Homo sapiens: one gene and its partners. The protein of the gene in region 1 interacts with the protein of each later gene in a biochemical or structural test. Each region holds a gene or a part of one and is shown in the gene's direction. Other genes may lie near its edges.

Region 1 (7,909 bases):
GCCCAGCTAATTTTTTGTATTTTTTTAGTAGAGACGGGGTTTCACCGTGTTAGCCAGAATGGTCTCGATCTCCTGGCCTCGTGATCTGCCCATCTTGGCCTCCCAAAGTGCTGGGATTACAGGCGTGAGCCATTGCGCCCGGCCTCCTCATTTTTTAATAGATGAAGAGCTAAGTTGCTAAGTGACCTGACCATGGTTATATTTTTTTTCAAGGTTGGCTGCTGATAATGGACAGAGTATTAAAACATAGGTTTTGACCCAGGCATGGTGGCTCACTTTTGTGTTGCCAGCACTTTGGGAGGCTGAGGCAAGTAGATATCTCGAGCCCAGGAGTTCTAGACCAGCCTGGGCAATATAGTGAAAACTCATCTCTACAAAAAATACAGAAATTAGCTGGGTGCAGTGGTGCACACCTGTAGTCCCAGCTGCTCAGGAGGCTGAGGTTGGGGGATCACCTGAGCCCAGGAGGTGGGGGTTGCAGTGAGCTGAGACCTCACCACTGCACTCTAGTCTGGGTGACAGAGTGAAACCCTGTCTCAAAAAAAAAAAAAAGAACATAGGTCTTTTGGCTTTAAGTTCAGTATTCTTTGTGCTACAATGTTGTTGTGGGGAAAAAAATATAGAGATGGTCTTGGATTAACTCATACAATGCCAAAATACTAGAAAAGTAATGTTTCTTGTAGCTCTAAAATTCAAGGTACAAAATACAGTTTATGAAATAGTGGGAACATTCAGCTTTTAGAACAAAGCTGATAATTTAGCTAGGTAGATGCTAGCTACCTAGCTATTTAGATAAGTAGCTAAGAATATATAATTTATAACTAGTAATTCTCATATCGTAAGTTTGGAATCCCTCTTAGGTTATTGCTGATGTCTTTTTAGCATGGATTTTGAAGAATGTCATCCTCATTCTTATACATTAACAACGTATATTATGAAAGTTCATATTTATTATTAATAGTAGGAACCATTTATTGAGTGCCTACTATGAGCCAGTTATTACACTAGACTACAGAAAATATCAGATTTAATCCTCACAGAAACTCTATGAAGTATGTAAATTATGGCTTAGTGAAATTAAGTTCCTTACCAAGGTTATATATTATAACCAATCCAATTTTGCTTTGATGGGATTTTATATCAGTGGGAAAAAAATTGATTGTTTAGATTTCAGGTGTTACCTTGTTTTTGCTAAGTTTAAAGTTATGCCAACTAAATGTAGCACTACAGTGTTCTCCCCTACCCTGCTTATTTGTTTGTTTAAAACTTCCGTCATATAGGATCTGAAACCAAACAACTTGTTGCTAGATGAAAATGGAGTTCTAAAACTGGCAGATTTTGGCCTGGCCAAATCTTTTGGGAGCCCCAATAGAGCTTATACACATCAGGTTGTAACCAGGTAAGAATCTCTTAAAGCTACATGTGCAGGAGTTTGATCAGAAATGAGCATCAACTGGCTTCTCTGAACTATCTTGGCAGAGTTAAGGAATCATTGTTGATAGATACCGTCTTAAAAAATACTGCCATTTGGCCAGGCGCGGTGACTCATGCCTGTAATCCCAGCACTTTGGGAGGCCAAGGCAGGCAGACCCACGAGGTCAGGAGTTTGAGACCAGCCTGGCCAACATGGTGAAACCCCGTCTCTACTAAAAATACAAAAGAATTAGCTGGGCATGGTGGCGCACGCCTGTAATCCTAGCTACTCAGGAGGCTGAGGCAGGAGAATTGCTTGAACCAGAGAGGCAGAAGTTGCAGTGAGCAGAGATTGCACCACCGCACTCCAGCCTGGGCGACAGAGAAAGACTCCCTCTCAGGGAAAAACAAAAAACAAACAAAAAAAAAACCTGTCATTTTTATGTTAGGTATACTTTACCACGATGAAAAAATACATAGCCCCTTTTCAAACAGAGTCTAACTTAATCCTAAGACATTTACCTTGTAAATGGGAACAATTTATACTTTAACATTTTAGTTAGATAATCTAGAATTTCAGTGGATATTCTTCTACCTAATCATCTGATTTATTGGACCCATTTTTATTATGTTGGTCAGTGCTGATTCTGTATCCTTCTATGTAAATGAAAATTCTCTAAACAGAGCAATGTCTTGATATTTGAATTTTTCATATTGGTAATTATATTTTCCATTTGTATTTTTGATGTGAAAAAACAGAAAATCACATTAAATAGGAATGATAGATTTTATAATTTTTGTCCCAGTGGCATTTTGTTAATTTCCAAGACCGTTTTAAGGATCTGCAAAGATTTTCAAATTCTGTATTTTTTCTTTTTCTTTTTTGAGACAGGATCTCGCTCTGTTGCCCAGGCTGAAGTGCGGTTGTGCAAACAGTACTCACTGCTGCCTTGACCTCTTGGGTTCAAGCAATCGTGCTACCTCAGCCTTCCAAGTATCTGGGGCCACAGGCACGCCCCACCATGGCTGGCTAATTTTTTAAAGTTTTTATAGAGATGGGTTTCGCCATGTTGCCCAGGCTGGTCTCAAAGTCCTGCACTCAAGCGATCCTCCCACCTCAGCCTCCAATAGTTTTGGGATTACAGGTGTGAGCCATTGTGCCTGGCCCCAAAGTCTCTATTTTAAATTATTTTGCCACCTTCTTCCAAATAGATGTCACTGAGTATAAATCACCTAAGCCCTGAGTAAGAAGTAGGGGATGTGAGTAATTGTTTATGTAATTGCTAGAGCAGTTAAGCTCAACATTCAGGAACTCATAGAAACAGGGACCTGTGTACAAGAGCATTGTTAACAGAGCTTTCTCATCTACCAGTTTCTCATATTTTCTCTGTCTGTAAATCAAATGCTGCTGGTAAATCAAATTAAGATGAAGACTCTGGGAATTGACAATGGGATTTAGCAGTGTGGACATGACTGATAAGCTTGATAAGAGCAGTTTTGATGGAATGGTAAGGATGAAAGCCTGATTGAAAAGGTTCTCTGTGTGTGTGTGTGTGTGTGTGTGTGTGTGTGTGTATGTGTGTGTGGTGTTTTGTTTTGAGACGGAATCTGGCACTGTCGCCCAGGCTGGAGTGCAATGGCGCGATCTCTGCTCACTGCAACCTCTGCCTCCCGGGTTCAAGCAATTCTCCTGCCTCAGCCTCCCAAGTAGCTGGGATTACAGGCGCCCACCACCATGCCTGGTTAATTTTTTGTATTTTTAGTAGAGACGGGTTTCACTATGTTGGCCAGGCTGGTCTCAAACTCCTGACCTCGTGATCCGCCCGCCTCGGCCTCCCAAAGTGCTGGGATTACAGGCGTGAGCCACCACACCCGGCCTGAAAAGGTTTTAAGAGAGGATGGAAGAAAAGGAATTGGAGACAGTAAGAATAGACAATTCTTTGAACTGGGCAGAGAATGAGGAGGCACCTATTAGGGGAGGTAGGGTCCAGAGAAGTTTAAGACTGGAAAAATACTGGTATGTTTGTACATTGTTGGGAAAAGTCTAGTAGAAAACAAAAGACTGCTGTAGGAGAAAAAGGAGAGAACTGCAAGAGTATTATATTTAAAACTTCATGAAAGAGTATGGTATCTAGTCCTTAAAGTAAGGGATTGCCTTTAAAAACAGAAAACAGACAAGGATCGTTCATCCCTAGAGATAGAAGTGCTTTGATAATTTCATGCTAAAATGATACTAATTCTTTTTGTTCTTTAGGTGGTATCGGGCCCCCGAGTTACTATTTGGAGCTAGGATGTATGGTGTAGGTGTGGACATGTGGGCTGTTGGCTGTATATTAGCAGAGTTACTTCTAAGGGTAAGTCTAAATTAATGTACGCACTTTAATATTGTTGTTGCAGTTATTTGTTCTGACAGTTTGTATAAGAATTCTTGTCCTAGGCCAGGCATGGTGGCTCACGCCTGTAATCCCAGCACTTTGGGAGGCCGAGGCAGGTGGATCACTTGAGGTCAGGAGTTCGAAGCCAGCCTGGCCAACATGGTGAAACCCCATCTCTACTAAAAATAGAAAAATTAGCTGGGCATGGTGGCGGGTGCCTGTAGTCCCAGCTACTCGGGAGGCTGAGACAGGAGAATCGCTTGAACCTGGGAGGCAGAGGTTGCAATGAGCCAAGATTGTGCCACTGCACTCCAGCCTGGGCAACAGAGCAAGGCTCCATCTCAAAAAAAAAAAAAAAGAAAAAGAAAAAGAAAAGAATTCTTGTCCTGCCAATGTCTTTACAACAAAAAGCCTACAAATAGTCCAATTTTTAAAAAGCCAAATGTAGCATTTTTTAATGTTAATATGAAATGAGAATATCTTCCATTTAGGACAATAAGAACTTTACTGTAGAAGTTTTATACTTCAGAACATAGAAATTCACTTGTAATATGGCAGTATCTCTATAACAACTAAATATGTTCAGATAAACTTTTGTCCTCCTGAGGGTTTTTTTGTTTGGGTCTGTTTTAAGTGCGCTTTAGGAAATGTATAATACCAACCACTGCAGCTACTACTCTGTATAACTTAAGCCTTGTGTGAGACCATTATTTTAGTTCTGTTGAAACAGAACAGATACAATGTTACTATAGCATTTCTGTGACTGAGACCATCATCTTACAGTAAAAAAAATCCCCTGCTTCCCCTCACCAGAGAGAAAGATGCTGACTTGGAAACTTCTCTTTAGCTATGAAGTTTAGATCTCCAGAAAGACTAGCCCTTACGAATGATGAAGGTAAAGGGATACAGGGGAATCCTTCTGAAGCTAGTTTTTTTCTCTCCATATTCTGACCCCTGCTCTCCCTCTCCTTAAGCCATATGTATTTAAAGAAATTCAAACCAAGATTGAATAGCTTTTTTATCTCCTTGAACACAGAAAACAACTTTTGTACACCAAAGAGAAAAACACTAAACTAAAAATGTTTAGTTTAAGCATAGTGGTGGCTCACGCCTATAGTCCCAGCTACTTGGGAAGCTGAGGTGGGAGGATCACTTGTACTCAGGAGTTTGAGGCAAGCCTGGACAATATAGCAAGACCCCAATCTCTTAAAATAAAAAAAAGTAAATTCTGTGCATCATTTTGAGAAACTTACCCAATGGGCATTTGTAGAAGAAACCCACACATTCAAACTTGGAAGGTAATATGGGAATCACAGTGCTAACAGGGGGTCCTGTGAATCAGCTGGCATGATAACTGCTACTTACCTGAACATAGAGTATACCAGAAATTCACACTGAGAATTTATCAACCACCACAATCCATTCATGGCCAAGAAGAAAACAGAATTCCATAGCCCCTAATGTTATGACTGATCACTCCATTGAGAAAGCAAATGAAGAGAGACAGCAGTTGAGAGTAGACAGGTTAGAGATTGTGGACCTGTTAACAATCATACTTGGAAATTTATTAGCCATTGGCATTGTTGCTGGAATCATCTTTAAAGTTATAAGGAAAATGACATGCAGACTAAAGAATTGTACTCTTCTGCCATACCTTTTGTCCTATTTTAAGCTGTTCTTGTGCTCAATTGAAAAGGTAGAAATGTTGCCCATATGAATGCTTAGCCAGGGATCACCAGATAGTTATTAAGGATCTTCAGATAGTAATGAATACTTCCAAAATGAAAGGCAGACTGAAACAAACTAAAAAGAAACTTGGAAAAAATGGAAACAACCAAAGCAGAAGAAAATTCACCGCCCCCAGCCCCCTTTCCAAATATTCAGAGATCTAAGAGATTATAGTGCATCTATAGAATAAGCACACCATACTTTTTTAAAAGGGGAACAATAAAATAAGAGACACTTGAACTATTAAAAATAGAAGATAGCCAAAAGCAAACAAAAACAGTGAAAGGAATGGGAAAGTAAGCTGCAAAACTCTTTCATTAACTAAAATCAAAAGATGAAGAGATGGCTAGGCACAGTGGTACATACCTGTGGTCCCAGCTACGTGCGAGGCTGAGGCAGGAGAATCTCTTGAGCCCAGCAGTTCAAGACCAGCCTGGATAACATTGTGAAACCCTGTCTCAATAAAAAGATAGATGGACTATAGTAGAGAAAAGATAAAATTAACAGATTGATCCAGGATTCTAGAATGTACCAACAGAAAACAAGGAAAATGGAGGGTAGGAAATCTCAAAATAGTGAAGCACTGCTAGATGTGAATCGTCAGACTAAAAGTGCCATGAAGAGTACAATTATGAGGCCGGGCGCAGTAGCTCATGCCTGTAATCCCAGCACTTTGGGAGGCCGAGGTGGGTGGATCACCCAAGGTTGGGAGTTTGAGACCAGCCTGGCCAATATGGAGAAACACTATCTCTACTAAAAATGCAAAATTAGTTGGGTTTGGTGGCACATGCCTGTAATCCCAGCTACTCAGGAGGCTGAGGCAGGAGAATCGCTTGAACCCGGGATGTGGAGGTTGCAGTGAGCTGGAGATCACACCATTGCACTCCAGCCTGGGCAACAAATGTGAAATTCCGTCTAAAAAAAAAAAGGCCAGGCACGGTGGCTCACGCCTGCAATCCCAGCACTTTGGGAGGCTGAGGCAGGCAGATCACGAGGTGAGGAGATAGAGACCATCCTGGCTAACACAGTGAAACCCCGTCTCTGTTGAAAATACAAAAAAAATTAGCTAGGCGTGGTGGCGGGCACCTGTAGTTCCAGCTACTCGGGAGACTGAGGCAGGAGAATGGCATGAACCTGGGAGGTAGAGCTTGCAGTGAGCCAAGATCGCACCACTGCACTCCAGCCTGGGTGACAGAGCGAGACTCCGTCTCAAAAAATAAAAAAAAAAATGAGTACAATTATGAAAATTACAAAGAAAACTTTCAAAAAAAAATTCTAAAGGCTCTGCATGAAAAAAAAAAACCTGTGCCAAGACACACTGTTGTGAAATTTCAGAATACGAAGGGGTAAGAAAAATATTTTATTTGCACAGAGAAGAAAAGCAGCATACATAGAAAAGAAAATAAAGTATTAGGGAAAAAGAATGGCATGAGCCTTCTCAACAGCAGCACTGGAATCTGGAAGTGTTCACATTGTGAGGGAAAATGATGCTCAACCTAGAATTCTTTGCCTGTTCATATTTTCAGTTTGCTCTGAGGGTAACTACAATTTATTACATCAGAAATTTACATCTAGGCCAGGCAGGGCAGCTCACTCCTGTAATCCCAGCACTTTGGGAGGCCAAGGCGGGTGGATCACTTGAGCTCAGGAGTTTGAGACCCACTTGGGCAATGTGGTGAAACCCTGTCTCTACCAAAAATACAAAAATTAGCCGGGCATGGTATTGAGTGCGTGTTTTCCCAGCTACTCAGGAGGCTGAGTTGGCAGGATCACTGGAACCTGGGAATTTGAGGCTGCAAGGAGGTGATATCGTGCCACATCACTCCAGCCTGGGTGACAGAGCAAGACACTAGCTAAAAAAAAAAGAAAAAAAGAAATCAAGAAATTAGCCAGACTTGGTAGTGCATGCCTGTAGTCCCAGCTGCTTGGGAGGCTGAAGTGGGAGGATTGCTTGAGCCTGGTTGTCAAGGCTGCAGTGAGCCACGTTTGTGCCACTGCATTCCAGCCTGGGTAACAGGCTGGGGTTCACCTTTAATTGGGCTCTGCAGGCGCTGCCGCACTCTCCACCTGGTGTGTATAGGGCATTTGGGGCCTTTAGAGGGCGCACTTGCGGTCAGCAGGCTGAAGAGGCTGCGGCGGCGAAGGCTGGGGAGCTGAGCTGAGCTGGTGCAGAGACAGCACAGGAGAAAAACAGAACCGAAAAATTCACACCGAATTAGAGGAGACAGACCTTGTCTCAAAAAAAAAGTTTAGGGCTGGGTGCGGTGGCTTATGCCTGTAATCCCAGCACTTTGGGAGGCCAAGGCAGGTGGATCACCTGAGGTCAGGAGTTCGAGACCAGCCTGGCCAACATGGTGAGACCCGGTCTCTACTAAAAATACAAAAATTAGCTG
Region 2 (8,115 bases), on another chromosome or scaffold:
GAATCCCAGCACTTTGGAAGGCCGAGGCGAGAGGATTGCTTGAGTTCAGGAGTTTGAGACCAGCCGGGGCAACATAGTAAGACCCTCTCTCTACAAATAATCCAGAAGTAGCTGGGCATGGTGGTGTGTGCCTGTAGTCCCAGCTACTCAGGAGGCAGAGGCAAGAGATTTGCTTGAACCCAAAAAGTGGAGGCTGCAATGAGCTGTGATCACGCCACAGGACTCAGCTTGGGCGACTGTGAGACCCTGTCTCAAAAAAAAAAAAAAAAAAAGACTGAAAAGATAACCCACAAAATGGGAAGGGAGACAATGATTGAAAAGCATATTTATCTCAAGGCTCTAGAGTCCAGAATTATATAAGAACGTTTACAACTTAACAACATAAACACAACTCAGTTAAAAATTGGGCAAAAGACTAGAATAGACATTTCTCTAAAGAAACCATAGAAGGCCGGGGGAGGTGGCTCATACTTGTAATCCCAGCACTTTGAGAGGCCGACGTGGGTGGATCACCTGAGGTCAGGAGTTCCAGACCAGCCTGGCCAACATGGTGAAGCCCCATCTCTGCTAAAAGTGCGAAAATTAGCCGGGGGTGTTGGTGCTCCCCAGGAATCCCAGCTACTTAGGAGGCTGAGGTGGGAGAATTGCTTGAATCCGGGAGGTGGAGGCTACAGTGAGCTGAGATTGTGCCACTGTAATCCAGCCTGGACTGTTGTCACTCTGTTAGTGAGACCCCATCTCAAAAAAAAAAAAAAAAGAAACCACAGAAATGGCCAACAAGCACATGAAAACATGCTTAACATATTAGGAAAATGCCAATCAAAGACACAATGAGATACCATTTCATACCTCATCAGATAATTAGAATTCTAAAAATGAACTAAACAGGCTGGGCACAGTGTGTCACTCCTGTAATCTCAGCACTTTGGGAGGCCAAGGTGGGCAGATCACCTGAGGTCAGGAGTTCAAGACCAGTCTGGCCAACATGGTGAAACCCAGTCTCTACTAAAAATACAAACCATTCGCTAGGCATGGTGGCAGGCACCTGTAATCCCAGCTACTCCGGAGGCTGAGGCAGGAGAATCACTTGAATCTGGGAGGTCGAGGTTCCAGTGAGCTGAGGTCACGCTATTGCACTCCAGCCTGGGCAATAAGAGCGAAACACTGTATCAAAAAAGAAATAATAAAAATAAAAATAAAGGACAACAACAATTGTTGACAAAGATACAGAGAAGTTCGAGCCCAATGACGTTTCCGATGGGTATGTAAAAATGTTGCAGTTGCTGTGGAAAACAGATGGACAGTTCCTCGAATTTAAATGTAGAATTACCATGAAACCCAACAATTCTACTCCTAGGTTCACACCCAAAAGAACTGAAAACAGGTGTTCCCACAAAACTTTGTACAGGCATGTTCATAGCTGCACTATTCACAAGAGTGAAAATGTGGAGTAGTGAAAGGTGGGTGGAAACAATGCTTATGTCCATCATGTGATGAATGAATTTTAAAAATGTTATCTATAGGAAATGCATATTATTCAGCCATAAAAAGGAATGAAGTACTGACACGGCTACAACACAGGTGAACCTTGAAAACATGCTAAGTGAAAGAAGCCAGTCAGAAAAGGTCACATATTCTAGGATTCTATTTATTAAATATATAAAATGTTCAGAATATTCAAGAGTATAGAGGCAGCCAATTAGTGGTTGCCAAGGGTTGAGGGGAGAAAGGAATCAGGAGTGACTGCTTAATTGATACTGGGTTTCTTTTTGAGGTGATGAACATTTTTGGAAAACTTTTGGGAACTATCGAGTGGTGATGGTGGCACTATATTGTTATCATTAGAAATGCCACTGAATTGTACACTTTTTTATTTTATATTTACTTATTTATTTATGTTTGAGACGGAACCTTGCTCTGTCACCCAGGCTGGAGTGCAGTGGCGCCATCTCAGCTCACTGCAACCTCTACCTCCTGGGTTTAAGCGATTCTCCTGCCTCAGCCTCCCGAGTAGCTGGGATCACAGGCGGCCACCACCAGGACCAGCTAATTTTTGTATTTTTAGTAGAGACGGGGTTTCACTATGTTGGCCAGGCTGTTCTCGAACTCCTGACTTCAGGTGATCCGCCCACCTTGGCCTCCCAAAGTGTTGGGATTACAGGTGTGAGCCACTGCGCCCAGCCAGAGATCTTTATGTTTAAACATAGGTATCTACAGCTATACATTTCCATCTGAGTGTTGCCTTTGCTGTATCCCATGCACACTGGGTATGCACACACCAGGCCTTTACACTTTAAAATAGCTAAAACAGGCCAGGTGAGGTGGCTCACACCTGCAATCCCAGCACTTTGGGAGGCCGAGGTGGGCAGATCACCTGAAGTCAGGAGTTTGAGAACACCCTGCCTAACATAGTAAAATCCCATCTCTACTAAAAATACAAAAATTACCAGGGCGTGGTGGTGGGCACCTGTAATCCTAGCTACTTGGGAGGCTGAGGCAGGAGAATTGCCTGAACCTGGGAGGCAAAGGTTGCAGTGAGCCGAGATCACGCCACTGCACTCCAGCCTGGGTGATAGGCCGAGACTCCGTCTAAAAAAAAATAAAAAATAAAATAAAATGAATTAAAATCTAAAAAAATAGTTAAAAATGGTCTTAGACAAGGTAGCATGAAAAAAGAAGAAAAGTAGTTAAATGGATAAATTTTGTGTTATGTGTATTTTAAAGAAAAACATCAACTGATTCTTTGGGAAAAAAGAAAAATGACAGAATTATTACAATAAATGTACAAATCCACATTATAAAGGGAAATTTTTACATACTCATTAATTGAGGCATGAAGCAGACAGCAAACAGGGATGTAAATATTGCAACATTTTCTGTAGAAAACAATTTTTTTCTGTGTGTTCTTTTTTAGAACACATAGATATGCATAAAAATTGACGAGATAGGCCGGGCGCAGTGGCTCACGCCTGTAATCCCAGCACTTTGGAAGGCCGAGGTGGGCGGATCACCTGAGGCCAGGAGTTCGAGATCGGCCTGGCCAACATGGTGAAACTTTGTCTCTACTAAAAACACAAAAAATTAGCCGGGTGTGCTGGTGGGCGCCTGTAGTCCCAGCTACTCAGGAGACTGAGGCAGGAAAATCGCTTGAACCTGGGAGGTGGAGGTTGCAGTGAGCCAGCCGAGATGGCACCACTGCACTCCAGCCTGGTCAATAAGAGCAAAACTCCGTGTCAAAAAAAAAAAAAAATTGACAAAATAAATCTCAACAAATACTACAATTTAAGCTGGAAATCAATAATAAAAAGATAATTTAAAAATGAAACAAAATAGGGAAACGATCCCAATACTTCTCCCCCAAATGAGTGAGTCATAACCAGGAAAAACCTGTCATCTCAGTATAGAAAGAACATTATTAGGCGGTGTATTTTGATGAATGATAGTTACGTGGTGTGGGAGTTATACCTGCAAATAGCATGAGTTGGTCGTGAAGGGTTTAAGTGGGGAAAGACTTTTTGGAGGAGCCTGCATTCTCCACTATGAACCCTGTCACAACTTAAGTCACCTTCCTCTCTGATCCTCAGAAGCTGGTGGGATGCCTTGTGTAATTTCTGACCAGAAGGTTTCCGTCAACTGTTCTTCAACTATTCAAAATGCCATGCCCAAGACTGGTTCTTAGTACTCCAGGAGCTCACGAACGATTTCACCTTTATTTATTTTTTATTTTTTTTGAGACGGAGTTTCGCTCTTGTCGCCCAGGCTAGAATGCAATGGCAGTCTCGGCTCACCGCAACTTCCGCCTCCCGGGTTCAAACGATTCTCCTGCCTCAGCCTCCCGAGTGGCTGGGATCACAGGCCATGACGCCCGGCTAATTTTGTATTTTTAGTAGTGACGATGTTTCTCCATGTTGGTCAGGCTGGTCTCGAACTCCTCACCTCAGTTGATCCGCCCGCCTCGGCCTCCCAAAGTGCTGGGATTACAGGCATGAGCCACCGCGCCCGGCCGATTTTTTTTAAAAAAAGGAACGCTTAGCCGGGTGCAGTGGCTCAGGTCTGTAATCGCAGCACTTTGGGAGGCCGAGGCGGGCGGATCACTAGGTCAAGAGATCAAAACCATCCTGGCCAACATGGTGAAACCCTGTCTCTACTAAAAATACAAAAAATTAGCAGGGCGTGGTGGCGGGCGCCTGTAGTCCCAGCTACTCGGGAAACTAAAGCAGGAGAATCGCTTGAACCCGGGGGGGGGAGCTTGCAGTGAGTGGAGATCGCGCCACTGTACTCCAGCCAGGCGACAGAACGAGGCTCCGTCTCAAAAAAAAAGGAACTCTTAAAACGAGTAACTCCGTAACCTAACTTAGAGGACACGGGTTCCATTTTTCCCCGTAGCAGTCTCCTATGGAGAAAGTGCTTGGCTTCCCACAGACTTTAAAACCTGCCAAAGTTCCATGCTCGGAATCTGCCCCCGTTTCGAGATACTTGGGCCTCCGCGAGTTCTAAAACTCCGGGATGTCCCGATGCAATAGGGGGCCGAAAACCCGCCCCGTGAGGGGGCGGGACCGGAGGTGAACGCGCAGCAAAACCGGGCGCCTTCCACGACCCTCTAGCCGGAAGCCACGCCTGCCCACTAGCCCGACGCCCGCCTGGCGGGAACATGGGCTCGCCCCTCACCAGCGATCTGCAGTCAGTTGGTAGCGCCTGCACGTCGCGCGCGGTGTTCGATTGTCGCTGCCTGGGGAGGAGGAGCCGGAGCCGCCGCCGCCGCCGCCGCCGCCGCGGGCTTCGTTCGTAAGGAAGGGGGCCTAGGCCCGGGCCTGCGGTGGTGGGGGTTGCTGCGCGCCGGGGGTCGCTCCTGCTGTGTCTTCCGCTCCAGCTTCGCCCACTTCCCCTTGCCAGCGGGGTGGGCGCGGAGAAGACCTGCCGGAGCCATGGAGGACGAAGTGGTCCGCTTTGCCAAGAAGATGGACAAGATGGTGCAGAAGAAGAACGCGGTGAGCGCGGCGAGCGGCGCGGGCCGGGAGGGAGGCCGGGCCGCGGTCCGGCCCGAGGGGGCCGCCCCCTCCCTCCTTCTCCCTCCCCTCCCCCTGCAGCCTCCCGTCTGGGAGCCGGGCCCGCCGCGCCCGCGTCCCCGGGGAGGGTGTCCGGGCCCGGGGCGTCGGGTCCCGCGGCAACCTGCGTTAGGACCCGCTCGCTCTTGTATTTCCAGTCCCTGCTCGCTGGTGCCGTGTAATAAACCTAATCGATTTAGGGATTAGGGCACGCTCTCCGTTGACTTTAAACTTTCGTGCTAGTAAAACCTTGGCAATTTAGCTTAGGAATTGAAGCGTAGAAAGTCCTCAGAACTTGAAAGAATGGAGTCTTCCGTGATCCGTGGCCAACATCTAGAAAGAGCATCAAATAGAGGCTTGTGATCGGTATTAGACATCGGGCTGGTAAAATGTAAAACTTCTGTGTCTTATTTTTGAAGAGGGCTGAACGTCCGCCTGGTTATCTCAACTGTGCTACATGTTTGCTTAGCGATTAAAAAGGTAAAGTGTGCCAGTTTCTTGGCGAGTTGCTAAACGTTTTATAAAAAGCGGGTTTTGTCCTGTCGTAATGTACAGAAGAGTTAGGACTACAGCACGCACACTCACCGGAATGCTGGTAGAGGGATTTGGACAAATTATATTGTTGGGTATTTTCTAAGTGGTTTACAGTTAATACTGGTGGCATTTTTTTTGTTATTGATGAATATTCATGTAAGCATATGCTTTTGTGGTTTGTAAGAAATCCTCATACGACCAGTTTCTACAGCTTGCCCATTTGTGTGGCACTTTCAGTCCCTTGCTTCAGACTCATCTGTTCTTAGCTAAACATATTTTTTCGAGACGGAGTTTAACTCTTGTTGCACAAGCTGGAGTGCAATGGCTTGATCTCGGCTCACTGCAACCTCCGCCTCTCGGGTTCAAGTGATTCTCCTGCCTCAGCCTCCCGAGTAGCTGGGATTACAGACGTGCGCCACCACGCCTGGCTATTTTTTTGTATTTTTAGTAGAAACGGGGTTTCACCATCTTAACCAGGCTGGTCTCGAACTCCTGACCTCAGGTGATCCGCCCACCTCAGCCTCCCAAAGTGCTGGGATTACAGGCGTGAGGCCACTGCGCCTGGCCTCTCAGGTAAACTTATATAATTGTCCTCACCTAAATTTGTTTAACCACGTTCGGCACATTTTCATCATCAGTGTACCTGAAATAATTTTTCTTCCATCTATGAAGTAAATTCCATGTCAAACTAATGTGAAGAGAAAAGGGATGCTCTGATTTGTACAGCACTTTGGAGTTAAAAAGCATCTGCTCAAAATTCTTTTGTGACTCACACAGAGCTGTGAGTACATAAAGGGTATCCATTTTACAGATTAAGACACTGAGAGAGATTAAGTACTACTACTTAAATTAAGTACTGTGTAGTTTGGAATAAGCCAGGACCCAGGTTTTCTTCTGGACAGCATGCTTTCCACATGACAGCTAGATCAGGAATTAGTGTTAACACTAAATACGTAAGACTTCAAACATCCTCTGTTCCCCTTTTTCCTTTAACAGGTGCATTGCCTCGTATTTCATTTCATACCCTGTTAATCTGTATTTGCAAATTTTGGCCTTTTAAAGTATTTCCTGTTTATTTTCTGTTCTAGATATTACCAGTGCCATTTTTCCTCCCCATTGATATGGCCCTTCATTTCCCACTTCAAATTCTGGTTATTTGATAGGTTATCTGGTTATTGGAACATTTTCGTTATTTTGTTTAAACTGGAAGATTTTTCTCTGGTCTGGAGATCCCCAGACTTGCACAGTAGAAGCTCCCAGGGAAAAAAAGCCATTTGTTGGGTAATGTTCTCTCCAACTTAGGCTGTAATATGTATCCTTTAATCATCTAATGCATTAGATGTTTGCTTGATTTTGTTTCTTTCCTTGTAATAATGTTTCTAAGTAATTTTTTAGTGGGCAGGTGTGGAGAAGATAAATTCATATTTATCTGCAGTTCTCAAATCGTCAACAAATTTTCAGATCTTTTGTAATGAGTCTGGAAGAGAATGAGAATAAACTCCACAAATAATCCTCAAATCTAAGTTTTCTTCTCAAATCTAAGTTTTCAGGTAGTTCAAAACTTTTCCAGTATGAAAACTTGCCTCCCAAAAAGAAAGGTAAAACTGACTGGCTCTTGTACTTTTGTTTTCCCCAGCATTTTCCCTGCCTGTCCTCTGGAAATTCAAACAGGCTGATGAAATACAGAGAAAGAGAAATGGTCAGAATGACACTCCTCTTTTCCCCAACTGCATCATCAGCCTACAGATGGCTTTTTAAGTGTTCAGTAATTCAACAAAATGTGTTTTAGGGGTTGTAGAATTATGGTATATGTGTTTCTCTTTTTTTCGGTAGTTTTCAGATTTTTCTCTCAGCTTTTTTAATGTTTTATATTATGAAAAAGTTAACTTTTTTTTTTTTTTTTTGAGACAGTGTCACTCTGTTACCCAGGCTAGAGTGCAGTGGTGCAATCTCGGCTCACTGCAACCTCCGCCTCCCCAGTTCAAGCGATTCTCTTGCCTCAGCCTCCCTAGAAGCTGGGACTACAGGTGTGCACCACCATGCCTGGCTAATTTTCGTATTTTTAGTAGAGATGGGATTTCAACGTATTGGCCAGGCTGGTCTTGAACTCCTGATCTCAGGTGATCTGCCCGTCCTGGCCTCCCAGAGTGCTGGGATTACAGATGTGAGCCACTGCGCCCAGCCTGAAAAAGTTAACTTTGAAGAGTAATAGTTGTCATCAGAATTGACAAATTTAAGTGCAAATTTAGATATCATTTAAAAAAATATTTTAACATGCTGCTGCTTTACCTGAATAATTTTGTTTTACTAAAACCATAGGTGTCACACTTAACTAAAAACAGCTTACCATTTATTGAGCTATTACTCTGAGCCAGGTATTCTGCTAAATACTTACCCACCTTATCCCATTTATTCCTCAGGCAACTTTGCAAGATGAGTATTATCCTCATTCTGAAAATGAGGATGCTAAGTATTTAGAATAGTCTTAAGCCAAATAGCTAGTGAATGGCCAAGTGAAGATGTGAATCTAAATCTG
Region 3 (7,823 bases), on another chromosome or scaffold:
ACCCCCCGACGCCGACCGCCGGACGCCCCCCGCCCCAAAGCTTATTGGAAAATTCACTTTTGTAAAGCAAATGTATTTCCAGAGCTATTTTCGGCCGCGTGAGGCGTGTCCTAAGCTGAATCAGACAGGAAGAGGGGGAAGTTCGGGTCTTTTAATTTTTTTTTTTTCCGAAGGGAGGGGAGTGAGATGCTAGGTGGGTGACAGACGGCAGGCGCTCGCCTTCTTAACTCACGCCTGTCGCATCTGCCGCCTCAGTAATCCAGCCCCGTCCAAGCCGAAATTCGCCGAAGGGAGTGCGGATGCACAGGCCTGGCGGACTCTGCCCCCCTCCAGAACGCAGCGGCCCAGCGCCCCGGCGGGCGCGGCTGCGACCAGAGGGTCCCGGAAGCGAGTGAACACCTGCAATCGCACTGCCCGTCCCCACCCACCCTGCTCCCCCGTGCTCTCCGCTTCCCGACGTTTTCCTCTTCTCCTTGTCCGCATTTTTCTACTTTGCCTGCACTCCCTCCTTCCTCTTGATGTGCCTCCTATGTGTCCCCTCGGATTTATGTGTCCCCTCGCATTTTGCCAGTCGGGTTTTCGGTTTTGATTGACCGTCCATCCCTCCACGGAGAAACACAAACACAGCTCCACTCTTTGGGGGAGCCGAGGGGAAGGCAGTGGCTCCCATTTCTGAGCCTGAACTCAGTCACTACCCGCTCCCCACCTGGCCTAGGCGCCCCTGCGCGGAGAAGGCGGGACTCGAACTCGCGCTGCTCCCGGGCCTTGAGCCGACCGCGGAATCACCTGGCTGGGAGGCATCCTCCAGGTAAGCTTGGGAGTATGTGTGCTTAGTGCTGCAGGCTCCTGCAGAAAAGTGCCTATAAACACCCAACACCCTGCTGCACCCTCCACCTCCAGGCTTTGTACACTTTCCAACCGAAACTCCAAAACGCTAGCGTAGAGGGTGGGGAGCCGGCCGGAAAAAGAATAAAAGTCCAATAAAACTGGCGTTCGCTAAAGTTTATCACCAGTCCTACATGGGATATATATATATGTATTTTTTTTTCCGTGAAGGGTGAAAAGGAGATAAGGAAGAACCAACAATCTACCCCCTCCCGCCGCCCCCCACCCCCGCGCCACGGTGATCAGTTTGGACTTCAAAGCCAGAGCACAGGCTCTTGCGCTTTTTCTTGAAACCGAAGTCTACACTGAAAGAAAGTGTGCACTTTTGCCTAGAAGGCAACATGCGTTTTCCCGCGTGCTAGGTGGAGTGCATTTTAACAAGACATTAGGGTTTTAACACATGGCTGGAGTGGCGACCAAAAGGGAAAACTCAGTTTCCAGTCCAAGCCTCCTAGAGACATTCCTGCCAACCTCCGCACCCTCTCACGCCCCACCCCACGTGTGAGAGTCTGCAAAACCACCGGGGATTGGATTCGATGGCGAGCTTCACGCTCGGGAACAGTCAGTAATCGGAAGGGGAAGTGGACAGGGGAACTTCAAGAGGCGAGCCTGCCACGCGGGAAGCGCCCGAACTTGCGGGTCTCCATGAATGCAGAGGGCGCCGGGAAGGGGGGGCATCCGGCCGCGACCCTCTCTGCCCCTCCCATTCGCTGCCCCCCTCCCCGCTGGAATTTCTCTGTAAAGCAAGACGGAGTAGGGGGAGGGGGAGAGGGAAGGGGCGAGAGGGCCCTCGGCTCACTCCCGAGACGTGAGGACTCGCCACCCAGGCATTCTCCTCGGGGTGGGCTGGGCCCCGGGACGACCACCCGCTTCTTCCTCGCCCCCGCTGCCCCCACTTCGGGAGACCCAGAGCTCTGGATGCCTTTCCCCGGAGAAGGGGGGGTGTGCGGAGTCGGGGTGGAAGAGACCTTGCTCGCAGAGCTATATCAAGTGATGTCCAGAGGCTGGGAGCCCCGGCGGCCTCTGTCCCTTGCCTGTCGGGTTAGATTTATACTTTAAAAATACCTCCCGCCCTCCCTCCTTCTCTCGCCTCTCCCCGCTGCAACTTTCTTTGATCCGCTCAAAGGTGGCTTAGGTGAAATTGGAGTAATTCCCTTATGGGGGTCTTAAAATGTAAGTGAATGTCCTTATCCGGGGTGACTCAAAAGCTTAAGTCGGGAAGCCCAACGTGACTAAAACCAATAGGTGATTGTTCGGGGCCGACTGTGTGCGGGTGTACACGGTATTCGGCCCGGGTGTCATCCGCGGCGCTGGACTGTTTCATTTTGAGTTTGCAACTTGGGTTTTTCAGCGAGCTTTTTTTCTTCCTGAAAGCTAATGGCTTCCACAGCAATTAGACATTTTCCTCGCCCGCCCCTTCCCTCCCCTTTCTTTACATATAGGAGATGGGATACTCATTCCCGCTGCTATTGATAAGGTCGGAGGCGGCCGGGCCTCTCCCCAGCTTTCGCCCGCCCCAGCGCCCGCTCTCCCTCCGCCCTCCCTTGGCTTCCTTTTGATGTAGTGGGGAACGCGTCCTACTAAAAAAAAAAAAAAAAAAAAAAAAAAAAAGTAATCTGCCCGGTAACAATCAGCGCGCAGTAGCAGGAGCCCCAGAGCTATTGGCTATGCAAATAGAGGGAGGGGAGACGGCGCCCCAAACTCTTCCTCACCCTTTTAAAGCGATATCCCCTCCTTTCCCCCCCACCACCCCTTCCGCCCCACCCTCGTTTAAAGAGGCTGGCTCCGGGGCCTGAGTTAATCGCTTGCACCTCTAGTTTATTCGCTCCCCTCCTCCGCCTTGCAGGGAACCTAGTGTACGGCTCACCCAGCCCGCGCCCCACCCCGCCTTGCTGGCTCTCCGCGCCCCTGCCCGGGCCCCCTCTCTCGGTGAGGGAGGCACTCAGTCGGCCTCGGTGTGCCCAGAGAGCTCGAGCCACGCCATGCCCGCTGCACGTGCCAGCTTGGCCAGCACATCAGGGCGCTGGTCTCTCCCCTTCCTCCTGGAGTGAAATACACCAAAGGGCGCGGTGGGGGTGGGGGGTGACGGGAGGAAGGAGGTGAAGAAACGCCACCAGATCGTATCTCCTGTAAAGACAGCCTTGACTCAAGCATGCGTTAGAGCACGTGTCAGGGCCGACCGTGCTGGCGGCGACTTCACCGCAGTCGGCTCCCAGGGAGAAAGCCTGGCGAGTGAGGCGCGAAACCGGAGGGGTCGGCGAGGATGCGGGCGAAGGACCGAGCGTGGAGGCCTCATGCCTCCGGGGAAAGGAAGGGGTGGTGGTGTTTGCGCAGGGGGAGCGAGGGGGAGCCGGACCTAATCCCTCACTCGCCCCCTCCCCCTCCCGGGCCATTTCCTAGAAAGCTGCATCGGTGTGGCCACGCTCAGCGCAGACACCTCGGGCGGCTTGTCAGCAGATGCAGGGGCGAGGAAGCGGGTTTTTCCTGCGTGGCCGCTGGCCGCGGGGGAACCGCTGGGAGCCCTGCCCCCGGCCTGCGGCGGCCCTAGACGCTGCACCGCGTCGCCCCACGGCGCCCGAAGAGCCCCCAGAAACACGATGGTTTCTGCTCGAGGATCACATTCTATCCCTCCAGAGAAGCACCCCCCTTCCTTCCTAATACCCACCTCTCCCTCCCTCTTCTTCCTCTGCACACACTCTGCAGGGGGGGGCAGAAGGGACGTTGTTCTGGTCCCTTTAATCGGGGCTTTCGAAACAGCTTCGAAGTTATCAGGAACACAGACTTCAGGGACATGACCTTTATCTCTGGGTATGCGAGGTTGCTATTTTCTAAAATCACCCCCTCCCTTATTTTTCACTTAAGGGACCTATTTCTAAATTGTCTGAGGTCACCCCATCTTCAGATAATCTACCCTACATTCCTGGATCTTAAATACAAGGGCAGGAGGATTAGGATCCGTTTTGAAGAAGCCAAAGTTGGAGGGTCGTATTTTGGCGTGCTACACCTACAGAATGAGTGAAATTAGAGGGCAGAAATAGGAGTCGGTAGTTTTTTGTGGGTTGCCCTGTCCGGGGCCCCTGGCATGCAGGGCTGGATGGAGGGAGAGGGGTGGGGGGTGGCGGGGGACCGCGTTTGAAGTTGGGTCGGGCCAGCTGCTGTTCTCCTTAATAACGAGAGGGGAAAAGGAGGGAGGGAGGGAGAGATTGAAAGGAGGAGGGGAGGACCGGGAGGGGAGGAAAGGGGAGGAGGAACCAGAGCGGGGAGCGCGGGGAGAGGGAGGAGAGCTAACTGCCCAGCCAGCTTGCGTCACCGCTTCAGAGCGGAGAAGAGCGAGCAGGGGAGAGCGAGACCAGTTTTAAGGGGAGGACCGGTGCGAGTGAGGCAGCCCCGAGGCTCTGCTCGCCCACCACCCAATCCTCGCCTCCCTTCTGCTCCACCTTCTCTCTCTGCCCTCACCTCTCCCCCGAAAACCCCCTATTTAGCCAAAGGAAGGAGGTCAGGGGAACGCTCTCCCCTCCCCTTCCAAAAAACAAAAACAGAAAAACCTTTTTCCAGGCCGGGGAAAGCAGGAGGGAGAGGGGCCGCCGGGCTGGCCATGGAGCTGCTGTGCCACGAGGTGGACCCGGTCCGCAGGGCCGTGCGGGACCGCAACCTGCTCCGAGACGACCGCGTCCTGCAGAACCTGCTCACCATCGAGGAGCGCTACCTTCCGCAGTGCTCCTACTTCAAGTGCGTGCAGAAGGACATCCAACCCTACATGCGCAGAATGGTGGCCACCTGGATGCTGGAGGTAGGTCGGGGGGTGGCGCTCGCCAGGAGCCAGGACCCCTCCGGATGCTCGGGTCCCCGGCCGGAGCCCTAAACCTGGGAGAGGGCAATCCCCGCGCCGGCCTCCCGGCTCCTGTGCGGGAGTTTACCGCGCGCCTTCTGGCGAGACGCGTGGCTTTATTTCTGTTCCTCTCCAGATAAACTGGGGAGGCAGAGGGGGGAGGAAAATCTGGGAGAAGCGAGGCTGTCCTGGGCGGGGGTAGGGGAGCATCCCGCGCGCGTGTTCCTGCATGTGGCTGCCTCTTCTTCCCACCCCCCTCGCGACCTGTCTTTTGCGAAGCCGCCGCGGCTGCTTGCGCTGCGGCCAGGAAGAGAGTCGGGGCCTGAAATCGGGACCCCGAGTAGAAAGGCAACCCCCCCCAAAAGGCCAGAGCAAATTCGTCTTGGCCTCAGGTCCCCGCCTGTGGTCGCGACTCCGCGCTGGCACTTCACCGGGGAGGTGGAGGGAGGAGGGAGAAGGAGAGAAACGGGGAATTCGGGAGCCCCGGAAGTCCCATTGAAGAAACGCGTGTTTCAGGGGAACCCAAAAGAACCGCTTCTTGCCCCTCACTCCAAGTCTTTGCCCAGCGAGCCGTGTGCCCACGTATGCACAGCTCTGGACCTGCCGTGGTTTCGCCATGTTGCTTTGCAAACTCCCTTTGGAAAGGCTGGGAAACGTCGCCCGCTTACCCTCGCACCCCATTATCCCGGCCACCCCACTTCTAATCGTGCCCTCTCCCCCACCCCCCACCTCACGAAGATTACTTACAGTTTGGTTTTCCAGCTTCCTCGGTGCGGAGATTTGGGTGGGGTAGGAAGGGGGGGAGGGGGTGTGTGTAGGGGGGATACCGGGTCACCCCTGAAGGAGAGGTGGGAGCCCCCCGTGCCTCTTTCCAGGGCTCTCTGCTCCCGTCTTTCCCCTCGCTCGTCACCGCGTTCCCTAGTTTCTGTCCTTGTGGGCCGCAGCCGGACACTCCCGCCGCGGCGCTCACCCCTTCAAGTTTCCTCCCGGGATCCAAAGCCCCAGGGGTCGGAATACAGACCTTTCTGGCACCCGAAACCTCTGTTTCGGGAAGCCTGGCTCTTCTTTGGGGTTTTCACGCCAAAAGGGCTTTTCTAGGATATTTCCTCGATTTTTAATTATTTTTTGAAACCATCCCCCCCTGCTCCGACTCCAGCTGCCGAGGCTGCGGCGCTCTTCCTCCTCTCCTCCCTCCCCCTCTCTTCCCCACCTCTCCTCACCCGCCCCCCCAAAAGCGGCCCCTGGGCCGCAGGGACCCCCCCAGACATTTTTTCCAATTGTCGGGAATGATAGAGGAGGATCTGGGGATCCGGATGAGACCAAGAAGTGGACCCCCGGAGCCTCCAGAATATTTTTATTGATTTTTTGAAAAGATGACGAAATCCAAAAAAGAGTGAGTGAGTTAGAGTGCGCGAAGGAGTAGCCAAAGGGAGCGTCGCGGAGCTGCCGCGGCTGCTGCGCACTTCTCCGACTCCCCGTTTTGGAGCTGTAGTTCACCCCCTTTTATAGGATCCCTGGGAATACCAAAGCACTGATGGGCTATTCTGATTCACTCCAGTTTCCTCATCTTTGTTCTTTATTCTTATCACGCATTCTGGTCCCCTCCCCCTCCCACAAAAAAAAATTAATTTTTTTTGTTTCGATAGATTACGCTTTTTTATTCTTTTTCTCTTTTGCTGATGCTATGCTCTCCACCCCCGCCCCCCAACCCTTTCCCACTCCCATTATAGGTCTGTGAGGAACAGAAGTGCGAAGAAGAGGTCTTCCCTCTGGCCATGAATTACCTGGACCGTTTCTTGGCTGGGGTCCCGACTCCGAAGTCCCATCTGCAACTCCTGGGTGCTGTCTGCATGTTCCTGGCCTCCAAACTCAAAGAGACCAGCCCGCTGACCGCGGAGAAGCTGTGCATTTACACCGACAACTCCATCAAGCCTCAGGAGCTGCTGGTAATGACCGGCCCCTTCCTCCCTTCCTTTCTGCGATTCCCGCTTTCCCCTGGCCAACAATATGCCTTCTATCACCACTGCCAGAGCAAATTCTTGGGATCCAGAATGACCCCACCAATAGAATTTACCCACTTATGGGCGATAGCTCATTTAATAGGAAACCACTGTTTATTTTTTGTGTGTTCCTACTATGTGCCCAGGCTCCGTGCCCAGCACTGAGGCTACATCTGTGAATAAGATCCTCATGGAGATTTGGGTTGGTGAGACTCATTTGCAATTGTGTATGCATGTGTGTAGGGGACGCATGGAATATTTTAATTAACAGTGATAATATTTTAATTAAATTCCAAATTTCCAAAAATAGTCTGAGAACGTGTTCACATGATAGGTATGTGGCTGTGGTGTCTCCTAAAAACTTGGAGTTCAAAGGTAATGCCCTCTATATCTACAAAGTCTCAAGATACCAACACATAATAGCTGTTCACTAAATATCAGTTCATTGACTTTTGAGCAAAGTCAAAATGTGGCCTTTCACTGAAGGAGTCCGAGGCCTGGGTTCCTACCTCCAGTGGGACTGTGACCTCTGTACAACCCCAGGGATCCTGTCTTATCTCTGCTTTTCTACCAGGGAACCTTTTTCCCACCTGATCTAACTCCTTTTCCCTGCAGCTTGACATATAAGACGACCATATTGCAGCTGTACCGCATGGAATAGCGGCTCCAAGGCCCACCTTCGGTGGTTTGCACACCCCTCTTTGCACTGTTCAGAAAAGCACCCCCTCCTTCCCGCCCCTCCCCCTCCTCACTGGTAGGGCCCGCACAAAGTCCACAGGGCTGAGGCTGGCTTCTTGAACTGAGCTCTTTGTGAGGAGCCTTCCTTTCTGGGGCTCTGCTGCCATCTAGTGGAAGACATGCACAAGGTTGGGGGAGGAATTGCCGAGAATGTGGAGAGGGGCCTGAATGACTTCACCTTTGAACCGCTGCCAGGTTTTAGCTGCTTCTGGTTTGGTCCGAGAGGCCTAGAAAGGTGCTTTCTTCTGGGAGATCTGCTTCCTTTAATAACGGTGCAAGACCAGTGGTTCGTACTCGCATTACCCTGTGAAGAGGAAGGGCTGGCATTTCAAGCCATCTTTGAAGATGATGGTGGTTTAGTAGTTTATTGG
Region 4 (7,909 bases), on another chromosome or scaffold:
GCCAGACCAAAGTAAAATCATTTCCACGTGGTCAGGAAAAAAACCATTAGGTTAGAAGATGTTACCCAGGTTATAATGTCCCCACCAAAGCATTTGACAAATTCCACTGCTTGGATATAACATCCTGGAGGTGGTATTGATTTGGCCTTTCTGTACTATAGGAGTATGAAGTTTTGAAATGGCCCATCCTGCCCCAAGGATGTAATAGTCCATCCTGCCTCAGTACAAGAGAAGAGGCATCAATAGAATGGTATGGGAACTCAGAGATGATAGCTTTTCTTTTTTTAAATAAGTGGCAATATTATTAGTTTGATTACTGATCTGTAATCAGTTAAATTCTAGCTTGTCCCTAGATCAGAAACTAGGGGCTACCTCTGCAGAACTGTCAGTAGGCCTAACCCAAGAATTGATGGACAATTCTATCCTTTCAGCAAGTCAACCTATTGATGAGATATAAAAATCTTCCTATCTTTCTAGAGTGGAATTCCTTGCTAGTAACCTTCCCTTTTTCATCATCTCTTAACACTTACCTTAAAGATTTTTAAAAATTTAGTTTTGAAATAATATTCCCCTCTCATCTCTGAGTAAGAGTTGTATCTTTTAAAAGTTCTAAAATTTATTAAATAATATAAAAAGATTCAAACATGAATTGTCATTTTTGTCATCTTCAATTAAAATTGTTCCAAATTTTAAAATTTGTTTGACTTATGGTCAAATGTCTGCTGCCTCAAACTAGAATAAAACCCATCTTGAATTTCTATGACAGAATACTAAAAACAAAAGACTTTTTAAAAGTACTCTTGTGTTAACATTTATTTTAATTCTGTTCTTTTCTCTCTAGCTTTCTTGTTTTTCTCAAAGTACTCCTCATACCTTCATAAGACAGTCTTTGTAGTCAATGCTAAAGATAGAGAATAGAGAAAAACTCTGTGTTCAGGATTATATATAAAGAGAAGCAGTAACCTCAGAGTGAGTGAGTCATTTAAGTCTGAATCAAGGAAAGATAAGGATGTGGTTGGCCAGATCAGAGAAATATGCCTATTCTGTCTCTCCCAGGTGGGTTTAGCTAACTCAGGGAGAAACATTTTGGGGTGGCAGATATATAGAGCAGGCTCAGCACATCAAGATGGGGATGTTGGCTGAGGATAGAAGAGGCATTGAAAGGAGTCAGAGAGACAAATGGGTGTGAGAGGAGAGGCCAGAATGTAGAATAAGCACAGAAACATAAAAAACCAGATCAGACCAAGAGAAAAGAGAAAGTAAAGTGAATGCTGAAGAAGAGAAAAGTTCGAAAAGCCAACCTATACAAAGTAAGCAGCATCATATTACAGTGAAGGCAGCCACATAGCCTTTAAAAGACCACACAGAACAGATAGAAGATAGAGAATGACTAGGGACAGTTAATGGTTAAATTGAGATGAACAAGAAATGATACACAAAGTAACATCAATGAATGCAGAAAGAAATAGCAGAGAGAAACCAGTTATGTGCAATTGTAGCATAAGACTTCAGAATATAGCAAAAAAAAAAAAAAAATAGATGGATTGGATATATTTACAGAGAGATGCCTCATAGGTCTAGACTTAGAGTGGAGAGCAAATAACTGGTAGAAAGTAGGAGCAGTGAGGAGGCAAAAGAAGTGATTGAGACATGGAACAGGTAGAACAGGCACCGGGAAGAAAAAGGCTGTGGGAGAAAGTGGTTTACAAAGTAGCCCTGGGCACAGAGGTGGAATAATGAAAAGTATGCAAACGCAGTACCTGGAAGGCATGGATTAAATGACTGGATCAGTGTGGACTGGGCAACTGGAGATAACATTATTTTTTTGTTGCACAAGTAGCATGGCCCTATAGATATCCAGAGGCAGGACAGGATAGGTGGGATGAGCTAAGCCCAAGTTTACCTCCAGAGGATGGTCAGAAACACAGTGTAATTTAGGGAAAGATGTGATGGGCTAATCAGATACACGGACACAGACCTCAGCTAAGTATGAGTTAGAAAACCCCAGTAGATAAGAAGTGGACCCAGAACAAGTGAAGAGTAAGGGAGTAAGCAGAGATGAAGTAAGACAAAAGTGAAGGCAAAATAGTGAATGGCTTAGGAGGAAAGACTAATGAAGTATTTATTAGATTCAGAATGAGTCGGGGCTCCACACAGGAGATAATTCAGGATCCATGGAAAAGAGTGAGAAAAACGGACGAAAAATAAAGGAGAAACGTGAGACCAGGTCAGTCATGGACACTGAAAGAAACACCCAAAAGGTTTGGAGTGAGCAGGCAGTTCAAGAAACATGAAGATGGTTACAGGATAAAAAATAGCTGGACAGAGCGGGAGGTGGAGAAGCATACGTAGAAGTTGAAGTGGAAAGCATCAGTAGCAGGCAGAGAAAGGCATGAGCTCAGACAGAGAATCAGGCATATTCGAAAGAATTTGGAACAGATTGAGAGTGAAACAGGCAGATAAAATGGGGAACCATCAGAAATACTGAAAACTTGGCCTAACACAGAGGTTGGGGGGAACTTAAGTGACTAGAAGATAAGGAAATGATCAGACATGGAACAGGCTAACAGACAAAGAAGATCGTGGGTGGTAAAAGTAAAAAGCAAAATAAAATAGACTGAGAAAAACAGACCATTGTTACTGCAGAGTAGAATCAGTGGTTGGAGATGGATACAGAGTATCAGCATAGATGTGGAGATAGAAACATACAACTACATAGAAAAGCAGCTAGTTTGTGCAGAGGGTTATACCTTACTGCATGAGTGGTGGGAGAAGAACGTTGGTTGAGGTCAGGCTTTGTAGAATAGTTTTCTAGCTTTTTCCATGATCAGCACACAAAAGAAAGGAAAAAGCACACAGAACCACTTTGAATTGTTCTGGGTTGAGCTGAGATAACATTTTTAAAAATACAATGTGTTTTGTTTTTGTTTTTTAAACAAAATACTGGGAGAGATTTTTGTCAGACTAGTGGCTTTAAGTAGATGATGTCACCATATCACTTTCTCCTTCTCCAAGTATTAATAGATTTATTGAAACATCTTAAATCTATAAAACCTCAGTCATTTATATACATCAGAGGATCCCATGTTTGAGGAACTTAAATATAAATATGATGTGTTTTTCTAACGCATACAACTTTTACCCTGAGGTATAGAAGCACTTTCTTGGAATTGTTAAAGCATGTGTGCATGATTGCTAGGTAGCATTTACATGTAGTATTTCAGTAATTGCCTCCCTAGCTGCCCTTCTTTTCCAACACCAAGACATTAATTTTTCTTCTTCCTGTACTCCTCTATTCTTTTTATATAGCAAGGACCATGCAGCAACTACTGCTGGAGCTGCTAGCCTAGCAGGTGGGCACCACCGGGAAGCATGGGCCACCAAAGGTCCTTCCTATGAAGACTTATACACTCAGAATGTTGTCATTAACATGGATGACCAAGAAGATCTTCATCGAGCCTCACTGGAAGGGAAATCTGCCAAAGAGAGGCCTATTTGGTTGAGAGAAAGCACTGTCCAAGGGGCATATGGTTCTGAAGATATGAAAGAAGGTAAGAGTAGAAGTCAGTAAAATGGATGTGTCTTAGGTTCTGTAGAACATGAACTTGGCTTAGTGGGAAACTGCCTGGGCAATTCTGGATCTGTTCTACAGAACAATTAATTGCATTATATTAGGAAGTAAGAAATTGAACAATAAGATAAAAACCAACTAGTATACTTCCATTGCCCTTCAACTTAGTGAAAATAACAAATAGCCTTTTAAATTTTCATTTTTAGATTTGAAAAATTGTCATCTTTTTATCTTAATTTCTTGGAAAAATGCTATCTGTTGTTTTCAAGGTAGCCATACTCACCTTTCCTTTAATCTTATATTACCCTGACTTATATGCATTTAATTTTTCTGAATTGGGAGCCAAAACTATACGCTACCCCAAACTTTATGTTTTCTCTTCATAAATACCAAGGAGTGTATGCTACCTGAAATAGATACAAAGAGACCACATGAATAAAGGATTGAGCATTCTCACAGTCCAAGACGGTTAGCAGAACTTTGTTCTAGAGGATTTTGGAAATTTCTGAGGCATAAAGGGTTAAGAATTGCATACTAATCTTCGGAAGTTAGAGAACTGCAAGATTTTACTTTCTAAGTTTTAGTCTAAGTTACTGCATTCAAGACTTTGAGTGATGATGGTTTAGGAGTATGTAGAAAATGGGAGGCAAAAATGGATGACGATGACTCAAGCTGGAAAGTAGAGAGGAAGGGTGTCTCTATTTCTTGCTGAATTTTATCAGTGTAACAATCAATGTGCCGCTACTCCCAAGTTAATATATCATTACTAACATATCACGTGAGTTTGGTGATATGTTAGTGCCAAAGAATAATCAGTAGCTGAAAACCACTTGTTTTTTGGCGTTTCTCCTAGCCTCTTTTCCCTTCATAATTAGCATTTAGTATATGTATATACTAGAAATTGTGAAGGTAACGTGGAGTTTGGTAGTGATGGTAAAGCAGCTAATACCTCTACTGTGATTCTCTTTGATATATTAATTTTAATAAGAAAAGGTTTTCCAAGGCAACCATACTTTACCCTCCTTCTTCCTCACTGATTAGCCTGCCATGTTAGTTTTTTTGACGGAGTCTCGCTCTGTTGCCTAGGTTGGAGTACAGTGGTGCGATCTTGGCTCACTGAAACCTCTGCTTTCCGTGTTCAAGTGATTCTCTTGCCTCAGCCTCCTGAGTAGCTGGAATTGGGCGCAAGCCACCATGGCCAGCTAATTTTTGTATTTTTAGTAGAGACGGGGTTTTGCCATGTTGTCCAGGCTGGTCTCAAACTCCTGACCTCAAGTGATCTGCCTGCCTCGGCCTCCCAAAGTGCTGGGATTACAGGCATGAGCCACTGTGCCCAGCCTGTTGTGTTATTTAGATTGAAGTTGTTTTAGATTATACAGTAGTTAGGCTATACTACTACTTAATAAATTTGTTTTCCCCAACTTGGCTTCTTGCCTGTTCTTAAAGCAGCCTTCTTTTCTTTGAACTTAGGAAGAAAACTGAATAAAATAAAATTATTATTAACCAACATTATATATTAAGCTCATAAGTTTAACATTCTAGTTTACAGTTCCTAAAATGATAGAATATGAATCATATGGGCCTTAAATAAGTTATCTGGTCTACTTAAGTTTTGTAAATATTTATTTCTGCATAAAATAGGATAGTATGTTGTCATGTCTGAATTTATCCTAAGTTTCTTGATAGTAGAGCAGACTCTATCCAGTGAATGTATGAAGTGGGTCTTAACACTTGATTTTCCTCAAACTTCAAGTCATGTTGATATCTTTCACAATTGTATCGACTTCAATCATGTTCTCATTACTATACTGAAGAAAGTTCTAATTCCTTTTGATTCTGTTTTCCTTAAACAGTTCTCTTTTCCACTGCTGCCACCTCCTACAGTTTTTGTTTATTTTTGTCTTTTTCTGGACCATCTCTAATTGTAATATACTTTACTTGAGACATAGTGACCAGAATGATACATGTTGTTCATGCATGGATTCACCATTGATTTGAGTTTTATTTCCAGTATCTTTCTGGTTTTTACTTGAGATTTTGTTTGTTGCTTTGGTTCTGGAAGCATGTTAAGACCAAAAACTTCTAGAAACACGTAGAGGTACTTTTTAGGTTCTTCTGTGCCTTGAATCCAATAGCTTGGATCATATCTTTCAGTATATTTTAGATTATTTTTCTGCAGGCTGATTTTCTTGCACTTGCTGAAATAGAAATAGATCTGCTACTTTTCTGCCCACGTATACAACCTTCAGCTCTTCCTATATTTTTTTGCTGCAACTTGGCCTTTCAGTACCCACAATTGCTTAGCATCAATTCCGTGAATATAGTTTCCCAGTATACATCTTCTTTGTAATTTATAACTCTGTTGAAAAAGGCTGTTCCTAGAACCACTGTTTCTACTTTACCATCCAGAAATTTGCTCATTTATCCTTGTTTTTTGTTTTCTGTCTTCATCTGTAACAGAATAATTCTTTTTTCTCCAAACCTCTCAAGACCCTTGTCAGAAATCTGTTACGTGTGACTTAATTTAGTTTACAAAACTAATTTTCTTTTTCCCTAATTTAATACTTAAACATTAATCAAAATACTGTGTTGATATTATTAAACTATTTGGAACATTCTTTTAGAAGCAATTATTGTCTTAAAGGCTTGCATGCATTCCTTACCTTCTTTTCTTTCTGTTGTAGTGCTGCATTGGCAGTAAGCTCTAAGGAGGAGGTTCAGCCTTTGACAATATTTTGAAGTAGTTAAGTTTGATTTTAACTCTCATTTTGACAGTCATGTTATCAAAAGCCTCTTTTCTCTGACCTAAACTTTTAACTTGTCTGCTTCTGTTTCCCTTTCTCTCTCTTATCTGCTCAGTATCTCATTTTAGGAGTTCTGTGCCTTCTAAAATGTCCAGGGATTTAGCTAATTCATTTTAATGTGTTAATGAGAAGATGCTTTCACTTTATCCATAGTCAGAATTGACCATTTCTGAGTCTTCTCTTGATGACGATGATGATAGATAACACTATTCTAAGTGCCAGGCCCATTCTAGACACTTCACAGACATTCACTTAATCCCCACAGTAATCTAGTGAAGTAAATACTATTTTCCCCCTTTCTGTACTTGAGAAAATTGAAGCGGAGAGATGAAATAACTTGGCCAGAATCATACAGCTAAATAGTGTTAGGATTTGAATCAGGGAGTCAGGTTCCAAACAATACTTTTAATCTTTTTATGTATTTTAAATGGCAGTATGTTTGGTAGTAGTATCAGAATGCAGAATGCAGATGGTTTTCTTAAATATTTCATCTGCAGTATATCAGGTAAGATATGTACACAAAATGATAGGAGGTGTGTGGTGAGAGAAGCTTCATTCCTAAAATTAGATTCTTTTTTTATAAAGAGTTTTAAGTATGCTTAGTTTGCTTCATGAAAATAAAACTCACATTTATTCACTCATTTGTCAGATGTTTATTCAGTGCCTAACAGAGTGGCAGGTACTATTTAGGTAAATGGGATATATCCATGAATAAACAAGATAAATATCTGTTGTGGTAGAACCTACATCCTTGGAAAGGGGGTGACAAAGACAATAGATGTAAGTTATTCATTATGTTAGGAAATAAGTGCTATGGGGGAAAAATAGAGCATTGGGAATGTAGGGATAGGATACATTTAAAAGGTAACATTTGAATAAAGACATGAAAGATGGAAGGGAGTTAGCTGTGTGAGTACCTAAAGGAAAAATATTCCAGGCAGAGGGAACAGGTAATGCAAAGGCCCTGAGGTAGGAGTGTGTCTGATATGTACAAGGAATACCATGGAGGCTACTGTGGCTAGACAAGAATGAGCAGGGGAAAGAAGTAAGAGGTAGATGATCAGGAAGGATTCCAGATGATGTGGGACCCTATAGGCCATTGCAAAGCTTTTGGCTTTTACCTTGAGTGAGATAAAGAGCCATGTTTTGATTTTCTGTTATGCCAGCTACTCTAGTCGATTCTTCATAGACATTATCTTATATGTTTTTATTCAGAACCTTAGAAAGTAGATGCTTTTATCACCTCATTTTACAGAAAAAGGTATTGAAGTTTAGAGATTAAATAACTTGCCCAAGATGCTTGTGTGTAGAAGAACCAGGATTCAAATCTATGCTATAATACTCTTAAAGCCAATGTACTTGACCATTATGCTACTTAAGCTCCAGTTTGTAAGAAATATTTTGAATATTTTATGGATAGCAGCTCAAAAATGGAACCAGTGAAGTCTGTTATTTTATCGTATTATTTAAATATATGTTAAAATATTGTCTATATGCTATAAAGAAATGCCATTTATATTTAAGGATATTGACT

What was found.
Region 2: the proteins of CDK7 (region 1) and TCEA1 form a complex in vitro, tested with the Homo sapiens proteins (one study listed by BioGRID).
Region 3: of the proteins of CDK7 (region 1) and CCND2, one has a biochemical effect on the other in vitro, tested with the Homo sapiens proteins (one study listed by BioGRID).
Region 4: of the proteins of CDK7 (region 1) and GTF2E1, one has a biochemical effect on the other in vitro, tested with the Homo sapiens proteins (3 studies listed by BioGRID, with this or other methods).

The regions. Positions count from the first base shown.
Region 1 is NC_000005.10:69,258,538-69,266,446, forward strand, and holds part of CDK7 (cyclin-dependent kinase 7), read left to right. Parts: intron 1-1,280; coding exon 1,281-1,399; intron 1,400-3,667; coding exon 3,668-3,767; intron 3,768-7,909. UniProt on the Homo sapiens protein: Serine/threonine kinase involved in cell cycle control and in RNA polymerase II-mediated RNA transcription. Cyclin-dependent kinases (CDKs) are activated by the binding to a cyclin and mediate the progression through the cell cycle.
Region 2 is NC_000008.11:54,018,936-54,027,050, reverse strand, and holds the start of TCEA1 (transcription elongation factor A protein 1), read left to right. Parts: upstream 1-4,602; 5' UTR 4,603-4,925; coding exon 4,926-4,988; exon of another isoform or gene 4,989-5,018; intron 5,019-8,115.
Region 3 is NC_000012.12:4,269,561-4,277,383, forward strand, and holds the start of CCND2 (G1/S-specific cyclin-D2), read left to right. Parts: upstream 1-4,201; 5' UTR 4,202-4,480; coding exon 4,481-4,675; intron 4,676-5,735; exon of another isoform or gene 5,736-5,917; intron 5,918-6,444; coding exon 6,445-6,660; intron 6,661-7,823. UniProt on the Homo sapiens protein: Regulatory component of the cyclin D2-CDK4 (DC) complex that phosphorylates and inhibits members of the retinoblastoma (RB) protein family including RB1 and regulates the cell-cycle during G(1)/S transition.
Region 4 is NC_000003.12:120,773,114-120,781,022, forward strand, and holds part of GTF2E1 (general transcription factor IIE subunit 1), read left to right. Parts: intron 1-3,309; coding exon 3,310-3,551; intron 3,552-7,909.